Linked DNA regions of Homo sapiens: all the other regions are linked to region 1. Evidence: fine-mapped expression QTL. Tissue or cell type: cerebellum. Region 1 holds a variant in brackets; each other region holds the start of a gene. All regions are shown on one strand. Distances are from middle to middle.

Region 1 (2,756 bases):
CACCCACCCAAGTGTCCAGTGGATGAATGGATAAACAACATGTGGTCCATCAGTGGAGTCTTGAGTTTTTTTTTTTTTTGTTTTTTTTTTTTTTTTTGAGACAGAGTCTCGCTCTGTCACCCAGGCTGGAGTGCAGTGGCAGGATCTTGGCTCACTGCAACCTCCACCTCCCAGGTTCAAGCAGCTCTCTTGTCTCAGCCTCCCGAGTAGCTGGGATTATAGGCACCTGCCACCACGCCCGGCTACTTTTTGTATTTTCAGTAGAGACGGGGGTTTCACCATGTTGCCCAGGCTGGTCTTGAACCCCTGACCTCAAGCAATCCACCCGCCTCAGCCTCCCAAAGTGCTGGGGTTACAGGTGTGAGCCACTGTGCCCTGCCTGGAGTCTTTTTCAGCCATCAGAAAGACTGAAGTCCTGGCCAGTAGCTCACGCCTGTAATCCCAGCACTTTGGGAGGCTGAGGCAGGCAGATCACTTGAGGTCAAGAGTTCGAGACCAGCCTGGCCAACATGGCAAAATCCCTCTCTACTAAAAATACAAAAATTAGTTGGGCATGGTGGCGCATGCTTGTAATCCCAGCTACTCGGGGAGCTGAGGCAGGAGAACTGCTCAAATCCAGGAAGCAGAGGTTGCAGTGAGCCCAGATCATGCCACTGCACTCCAGCCTGGATGACAGAGCGAGACTCTGTCTCAAAAAAAAAAAAAAAAGAGAGAGATTGAAGTCCTGATAAGAGATTGAAGTCCTGATCCCTGCTACAACAGGGATGAAATAAAAAACACGATGCTGAGTGAAAGAAGCCAGACACAAAAGGCCACATGTCGTATGATTCCATTTATGTGAAATGCCCAGAACAGGCAAATCCACAGAGACAGGAAGCTAATTAGTGGTTGCCAGGAGCTGTGGGAGGGGAAATGGGGCATGACTGCTGAAGGGGACAGGGTTTCCTTTCGGAGGGGATGAAAATGTGCACAAATTAGATAAAGGGTGTGGTTGCACATATTATGAATATACTGAAACTCACTGAATTGTTCATTTTAAAGTGGTTCATTTTTTGTTTTGTGAATTTCAGCTCAAAAGAAAATCCAATTAGGCCACTTATCAGCTGGGGGTGGCCTCTGACATGTGGCCCAGTTGATGGTGCTGTGCCA[A/G]TGGATCACTCTGTACCACAGCTGAGGTTTTAAGGCCACCCGGGTGGAAGAGACCAGGGCATGTAAACTGCATAATGGCATCACGCCTGCCCGGGGTTGGCAGGTTTAACGGGTTCCGCGCCCTCTCTCTTGGAATTCACTCTTCTGAGATAGGTCACGTCACACCTGCTCTGGAAGGCTGGGCAGTTAGGAGGCCACACCTGGGAAAAGTGCCTTCTGCGCTTTTTTGTTTGCTTGTGTTTTTTTGTTTTTTTTGTTGTTGTTGTTGTTGTTTGTTTGAGACGGAGTCTTGCTCTGTCATCAAGGCTGGAGTGCAGCGGCGCCATCTGGGCTCACTGAAACCTCTGCCTGCCGGGTTCAAGCAATTCTCCTGCCTCAGCCTCCCGAGTAGCTGAGATTACAGGCACCTGCCACCACGCCCAGCTAATTTTTGTTTTCTTAGTAGAGATGGGGGTTTCACCATGTTGGCCAGGCTAGTCTCGAACTCCTGGCCTCAAGTGATCCACCGGCCTGGGCCTCCCAAAGTGCTGGGATTACAGGCGTGAGCCAATGCGCCCAGCCCTGTTTGTTTGGTTTCTTTTTTGAGATGGAGTCTCTGTCTCCCAGGCTGGAGTGCAGTGGCATGTTCTCAGCTCACTGCAACCTCCTCGTCCTGGGCTCCAGAGATTCTCCTGCCTCAACCTCCCGAATAGCTGGGATTACAGGCGCCCACCACCACGCCTGGCTTATTTTTGTATTTTTAGTAGAGATGGGGTTTTATCATGTTGGCCAGGCTGGTCTCGAATTCCTGACCTCAAGTGATCCACCTGCCTTGGCCTCCCAGAGTGCTGGAATTACAGGCATGAGTCACCATGCCCAGATGCCTTCTTCATTTTAAAAGGTGCCCAGCCTCATTTGTGTCCCCAGGAAGGCAAATAAAAGCTACTAGGAGGTGCCATGTACCCGCCACTTATCAGACAGGGAAGAACCCATGCCCAGATTAGGCTACATTATGAGGAGGTGGTGGCAAACAGATTTTGATTTTGTCACCTCTATAAAGCTCAGCTCTGATACCCAGGGCCCCATGGATGTCTGACACCCAGTGGCCCCATGGATGCCACTACTCTCTGACACCCAGAGCCACACCCACTGGGCAGGTGTGGTCTCTGAATTTACAGCCTAGGTGCTAAGACCTGCAAGGGAGAAGACATGAAGGGCTGGGAAGTCCCTGGGCTGTTTGTAGCCAGACAGGGCAGGTGCTGCAGCCACCTCTGCCCCCATTTGATGCCCCAACTCCTATAATCATCCTTCCTTCCTACAGCTGACGTTTTTGTTGTTTTTGTTTTGTTTTGTTTTGATACAGGGTCTCACTCTGTCACCCAGACTGGAGTGCAGTGGTACAATCTGGGCTCATCACAACCTCCGCCTCCCAGGCTCAAGCGAGTCTCCTGCCTCAGCCTCCCAAGTAGCAGGGATTACACGTGCACACTACTACCGCCTGGCTAATTTTTGTATTTTTAGTGGAGACGGGGTTTCACCATGTTGGCCAGGCTGGTCTTGAACTCCTGACCTCAAATGATCCACCTGCCTCGGCCTCCCAAAGTGCTGGGATTATAGGCATGAGCCAC
Region 2 (2,620 bases), 57 kb before region 1:
ACAGCTCCTACTTCCAACTCTCCTGTGGCTCCAGATTATGCTCCAGGCAAAACCCACCCTTCTCCCAAAGACCCTGATCCCCCTGTCCCCCCACGATCTTGCCCCTGTTGACCGCCCTGCAGTCCCCTTCCCCCTCATCTCACCCCTGCCCCTGGCCTCCTGACTGCTCTTCAAGCTGCTAAGATCACTGCCCTCTCAAGGTCTTTGCCCATCCTGTGCCCTCCTCCTGGAGCACCCTTTCCCTGGCCAGCTCCCTGTCCTGCCTCGGGTCCAAGTTCCAGTCTGTGCCTGTCCTGACACCCTGGCTTTCTTTGTTGTCTGCGATGATTTGGCTCCTTCATTTGCTCATTGTCTCAGCGCCAGATCACAAGTTCCAAGAGGCCAGGCCGGATCCACCTGGTTTTTTAGGGCTGGGCCCAGGGCACCACAGGCAGAAATGGGTCATTATCTCTCCCTGAGTCTTTTCTTTTTTTTTTAAACGAAGTCCCGCTCTGTTGCCAGGCTGGAGTGCAGTGGCGCCATCTCGTCTCACTGTAACATCCGCCTCCTAGATTCAAGCAATCCTCCCACCTCAGCCTCCTGAGTAGCTAGGATTACAGGCATCACCAGGCCTGGCTAATTTTCCTGTTTTTAGTAGAGACAGGGTTTCATCATGTTGGCCAGGCTGGTCTCAAACTCCTGACTTCAAGTGATCCGCCCGCCTCAGCCTCCCAAAGTGCTGCGATTACAGGCCACCACGCCTGGCTAATTTTTGTATTTTTAGTAGAGACGGAGTTTCGCCATGTTGGCTAGGCTGGTCTCAAACTCCTGACCTCAAGTAATCGCCCGCCTCAGTCTCCCAAAGTGCTGGGATGACAGGCGTGAGCCACTGCGCCCAGCGTCTCCCTGAGTCTTAAGGGAGAAATACCTCAAAGAAGAACTTGACCTTCCTCTGGGGCAACTTCCCTGCTTCCCTCCTGGGCAAATCCAGCCAGGTTTCCTTCCCTGGGTGCAAAATTAGTTCCACTGGGTGCCCAACTCACACATGCTACAGATGGGTAAACTGAGGCAATAAGGGCCGGGCCAGAGCCCCACTTAACAAGTGGGTCTAGAGTCGGCTGAGCCCCTGGTGTGACCCAGACCCTTCTCTGTGCTATCATCAGTTCCTTTGGCTTAGGGGTCTCCAGCAGCCTGTCTGAACGGGGCGGCTGATGCAGAGGCTTCCGGAACTTTCTGCCCCTCCTTGCCCGCCTCCCCGCCCCCAGCTCCCGCAGGGCCCTGACTTTCGGTAAATGACAGTGGCTCAGGAAACCAAGGGGCCCACACAGGAAGGAGCCGAGTGGGACTTTCCTCTCGCTGCCTCCCGGCTCTGCCCGCCCTTCGAAAGTCCAGGGTCCCTGCCCGCTAGGTAAGAGCTGGCGATGCCGCAGGGCTCGGCCCAGACACTGGGGGAGGATGGTGGTGGCGGGGGATGGCTGGGCTGGGGCAGGGTGCTGCCAGGGCAAAGGCTAGCTCGCCTTCCAGGCCTCGGAGGAAAGCTGCGAGGCAGACGTGAGCCGAGACTCGCATCCTCCGATCGCTCGCTTCTCTGGGCTTCGGCTTTGACTAAGGCCGGGAGATGCCTGCCTTGCGGACCTGGAGGAGTCATTGCGCATGCGCGACGGGGGCTGCGGGGTTGGGGGTGGGGAGGAGGGATTGGGAAGGAGGGATTGGGGGGCGGAGTTCCCAGCCCCTACCCTCCAGGCCTTCCCGGTCCAGACACAGGGTACCCGACCATACCAGGATGCAGAACGTTGAGGATTATAAACAGGGGATGCCGAGGCGGGAGGATAGCTTGAGGCCAGGAGTTCAAGGCCAGCCTGGGCAACATAGCCAGACCTCCATTTCTACAAACATTTTTAAAAAACCAAAAAAACTATGGCGTTTTCTGGGACCAAACATCACCTCTGACTTTTCATTTTTTTTTGTTACAGTATTACAGAATAATAATATTCTGTTAAGATTTTTTTGTTGTTTTGGAGATGGGAGTCTTGCTATGTTGTTCAGGCAGGTCTCTAACCCCTGGCCTCAAGCTATCCTGCTGCCTCAGCCCCCTGAGTAGCTGGGATTGCAGTGGGGCGCCACTGCCACTGAAGCCTTATTTTAAACTCGACTGGGGCTGGGCACAGTGGCTCATGCCTTTAATCCCAACACTTTGGGAGGCTGAGGCCAGCGGATCACTGGAGGTCAGGAGTTCGAGATCAGCCTGGTCAACATGGTGAAACCCTATCTCTACTAAAAACACAAAAATTAGCCAGGTTTGGTGGCGGGTGCCTGTAATTCCAGCTACTCAGGAGGCTGAGGCAGGAGAATCGCTTGAACCTGGGAGGTGGAGTTTGCAGTGAGCCGAGATCATGCCACTGCACTCCAGCCTGGGAGACAGAACAAGAATCCGTCCTCCCCCCTACAAAATAAATAAATAAATAAAAAGGCTGGGCAATGTGGCTCACGTGTGTAATCACAGCACTTTGGGAGGCCAAGGCAGGCGAATCACCTGAGGCCAGGAGTTTGAGACCAGCCTGGCCAACATGGTGAAACTCCGTCTCTACTAAAAATACAAAAATTAGCTGGGCGCTGTGGTGCGCGCCTGTAATCCCAGCCA
Region 3 (2,620 bases), 30 kb before region 1:
GTTGCAGTGAGTCGAGATCGCACCACTGTACTCCAGCCTGGGTGACAGAGTAAGACTCTGTCTAAAAAGATAAAAATAAAAATTAAAAAATTAAAAATTAGCTGGGCATTGTATTGCAGGCCTGTAGTCCCAGCTACTCAGGAGGCAGAGGCTGAAGGATCGCTTGAGCCCAGGGGAATGAGGTTACAGTGAGCTATGATCCTGCCATTACAGGCCAACCCAGAGAGATCCTATGTCAAAAATGAATAAATACCCTGGTGTGGTCGCTCTCGCCTGTGATCCCAGGACTTTGGGAGGCTGAGGCGGGAAGATGACTTGAGTCCAGGAGTTTGAGACCAGCCTGGGCAACATGGCAAAACCCCATCTCTACAAAAAAAATACAAAAAATTAGCCGGGTGTGGTGGCGTGGGCCTGTAGTCCCAGCTACTCAGGAGGCTGAGGTGGGAGAATTGCTTGAGTCAGGGATAGGGAGGTGGCAGTGAGCCCATATCGTGCCACTGCACTCCAGCCAGGGTAACAGAGCAAGAACTCATCTCAAAAATAAAAAATAAAAATAGGTGGCTGGGCGTGGTGGCTTACACCTGTAATCCCAGCTACTTGGGAGGCTGAGGTGGGAGAATCACTTGAACCCAGGAGGTGGAGGTTGCAGTGAGCCGAGATCGCATCACTGCACTCCAGCCTGGAAGACAGAGCAAGACTTTGTCTCAATAATAATAATAAAAATAATAATAGTCCAGGCACAGCTCATGCCTGTAATCCCAGCATTTTGGGAGGCCGAGGCAGATGGATCGCTTGAGGTCAGGAGTTGGAGACCAGCCTGGCCAACATGGCGAACCCCAGTCTCTACTAAAAATAAAAAATAAAAAAAAAAAAATTAGCCAGGCATAGTGGTGCGCACCTGTAATCCCAGCTACTCAGGAGGCTGAGGCAGGAGAATCGCTTGAACCCGGGTGTCAGAAGTTGCAGTGAGCCGAGATCAAGTCACTGCACTCCAACCTGGGTGACAGAGTGAGACTCCATCTCAAAAAAAAAGAAGAAAAAAATAAAAAAGAAAGACTCGTTGCCCAGTGCTCCCTCTGGGAGAAGTACATCCAAGGCCCTGGCCCTGGGAGAAAGGCTCTGGCACTAACCCCACCCTTGACCTTTTTCCTGGGCGGTCCTGAAGAATGTTCTGTCCCTTCTCCAAGGCCCCCAGCTGGGACGGCCCAGGCGCCTATAAAGGGGGTCCCCGCTTGGCCCCGGCGCCACCCACCACCATGGACCCCCGTCTGCCCGCCTGGGCGCTGGTGCTGCTGGGCCCTGCCCTGGTGTTCGCGTTGGGCCCCGCGCCCACCCCAGAGATGCGTGAGAAGTTGTGCGGCCACCACTTCGTACGCGCGCTAGTGCGCGTGTGCGGGGGCCCCCGCTGGTCCACCGAAGCCAGGAGGCCTGCGACCGGAGGCGACCGTGAGTGGGGACGGGCAGGGACAGCGCTCTGGGAAGCCGAGGTGGGGCAGGTGCACGTAGGCGCAGATGCACACGTGCAGGGAGGTGGGCAGGTTTGCATGCATGTGCCCAGGGCTCACCTGCCGGCTGCGTGCACAGATCGTGGGTCCGCACTGGAGTGTGTGTGAACGCGCGTGTGAAAGTCCCCAGAGCCGTTAGCCAGGCGTGGTGGCTCACGCCTGCAATCCCAGCACTTTGGGAGGCTGAGGCGGGTGGATCCCCAGAGGTCAGGAGTTCGAGACCAGCCTGGCCAAAATGGTGAAACCCCATCTCTACTAAAAATAATTTTTAAAAAAATTAGCCGGGGATAATGATGCACATCTGTAATCCCAGCTACTTGGGAGGCCAAGGCAGGAGAATCGCTTGAACCCGGAAGGCAGAGGTTGCAGTGGGCCGATATCATGCCATTGCACTCCAGCCTGGGCGACAGAGTGAAACTCCGTCTCAAAAAAAAAAAAAAAAGAAAGTCCTCAGAGCATGAGTCCCCCTGAGGGGCCAGAAACAGAGTGAGGCAGGAGAGGTAGGCTCTTGCAAGTACATGGTGAGATCCTGTCTTAAAATTTCAATATTTTGATCTTCATGAATTTTTGCCTTAATTTTGCTTTGTTTGTTTGTTTTTTGAGACAGGGTCTCACTCTGACGCCCAGGCTGGAGTGCAGTGGTGAGATCTCGGCTCACTGCAGGCTCAACCTCCTGGGCTCAAACCATCCTCCTGCCTCAGCCTCTGGAGTGGCTGGGATACAGGTGCTGCCACCACACCCAGCTAATTTTTTTTTCTTTTTCGTAGAGAGGGAGTCTCACTCTGTTTCCCAGGCTGGTCTCAAACTCCTGAGCTCAAGTAATCCTCCCACCTTGACCTTCCAAAGTGTTGGGATTAGCGATGTGAGTCACTGTGTCCAGCTTTAAAAGTATTTAAAAGTATTGCTTTTGAAAAGTATTGCTTTTCACAATTATGTTACTTTATTTTATTATTTTATTTTTATTTATTTATTTTGAGACATAGCCTCGCTCTGTCACCCAAACCAGAGTGCTGTGACGTGATCTCGTCTCACTGCAACCTCTGCCTCCCGGGTTCCAGCAATTTTCCTGCCTCAGCCTCCAGAGTAGCTGGGACTGCGGGCACGCACCACCACAC

The links. PIP is the estimated chance that this variant, and not a neighbour inherited with it, causes the effect.
Region 2: it holds the start of JAK3, and the variant in region 1 is fine-mapped to the expression of JAK3 in cerebellum (GTEx, PIP above 0.99). The same link has a PIP of 0.9 or more in cerebellar hemisphere.
Region 3: it holds the start of INSL3, and the variant in region 1 is fine-mapped to the expression of INSL3 in cerebellum (GTEx, PIP above 0.99). The same link has a PIP of 0.9 or more in cerebellar hemisphere.

What each region holds. Positions count from the first base shown.
Region 1 is chr19:17,789,919-17,792,674 of GRCh38, reverse strand. No RefSeq gene overlaps it. Among named protein-coding and RNA genes, the nearest start is that of B3GNT3, 3.8 kb to the left of the region's middle. The variant A/G (reference allele first, on the strand shown) is at 1,150.
Region 2 is chr19:17,846,713-17,849,332 of GRCh38, reverse strand. JAK3 (Janus kinase 3) reads left to right here and starts at 1,351. Exons shown (of 24, transcript NM_000215.4): 1 at 1,351-1,387.
Region 3 is chr19:17,820,143-17,822,762 of GRCh38, reverse strand. It overlaps INSL3 (insulin like 3), which reads left to right and starts at 1,244. Exons shown (of 2, transcript NM_005543.4): 1 at 1,244-1,446. The coding sequence starts at 1,257.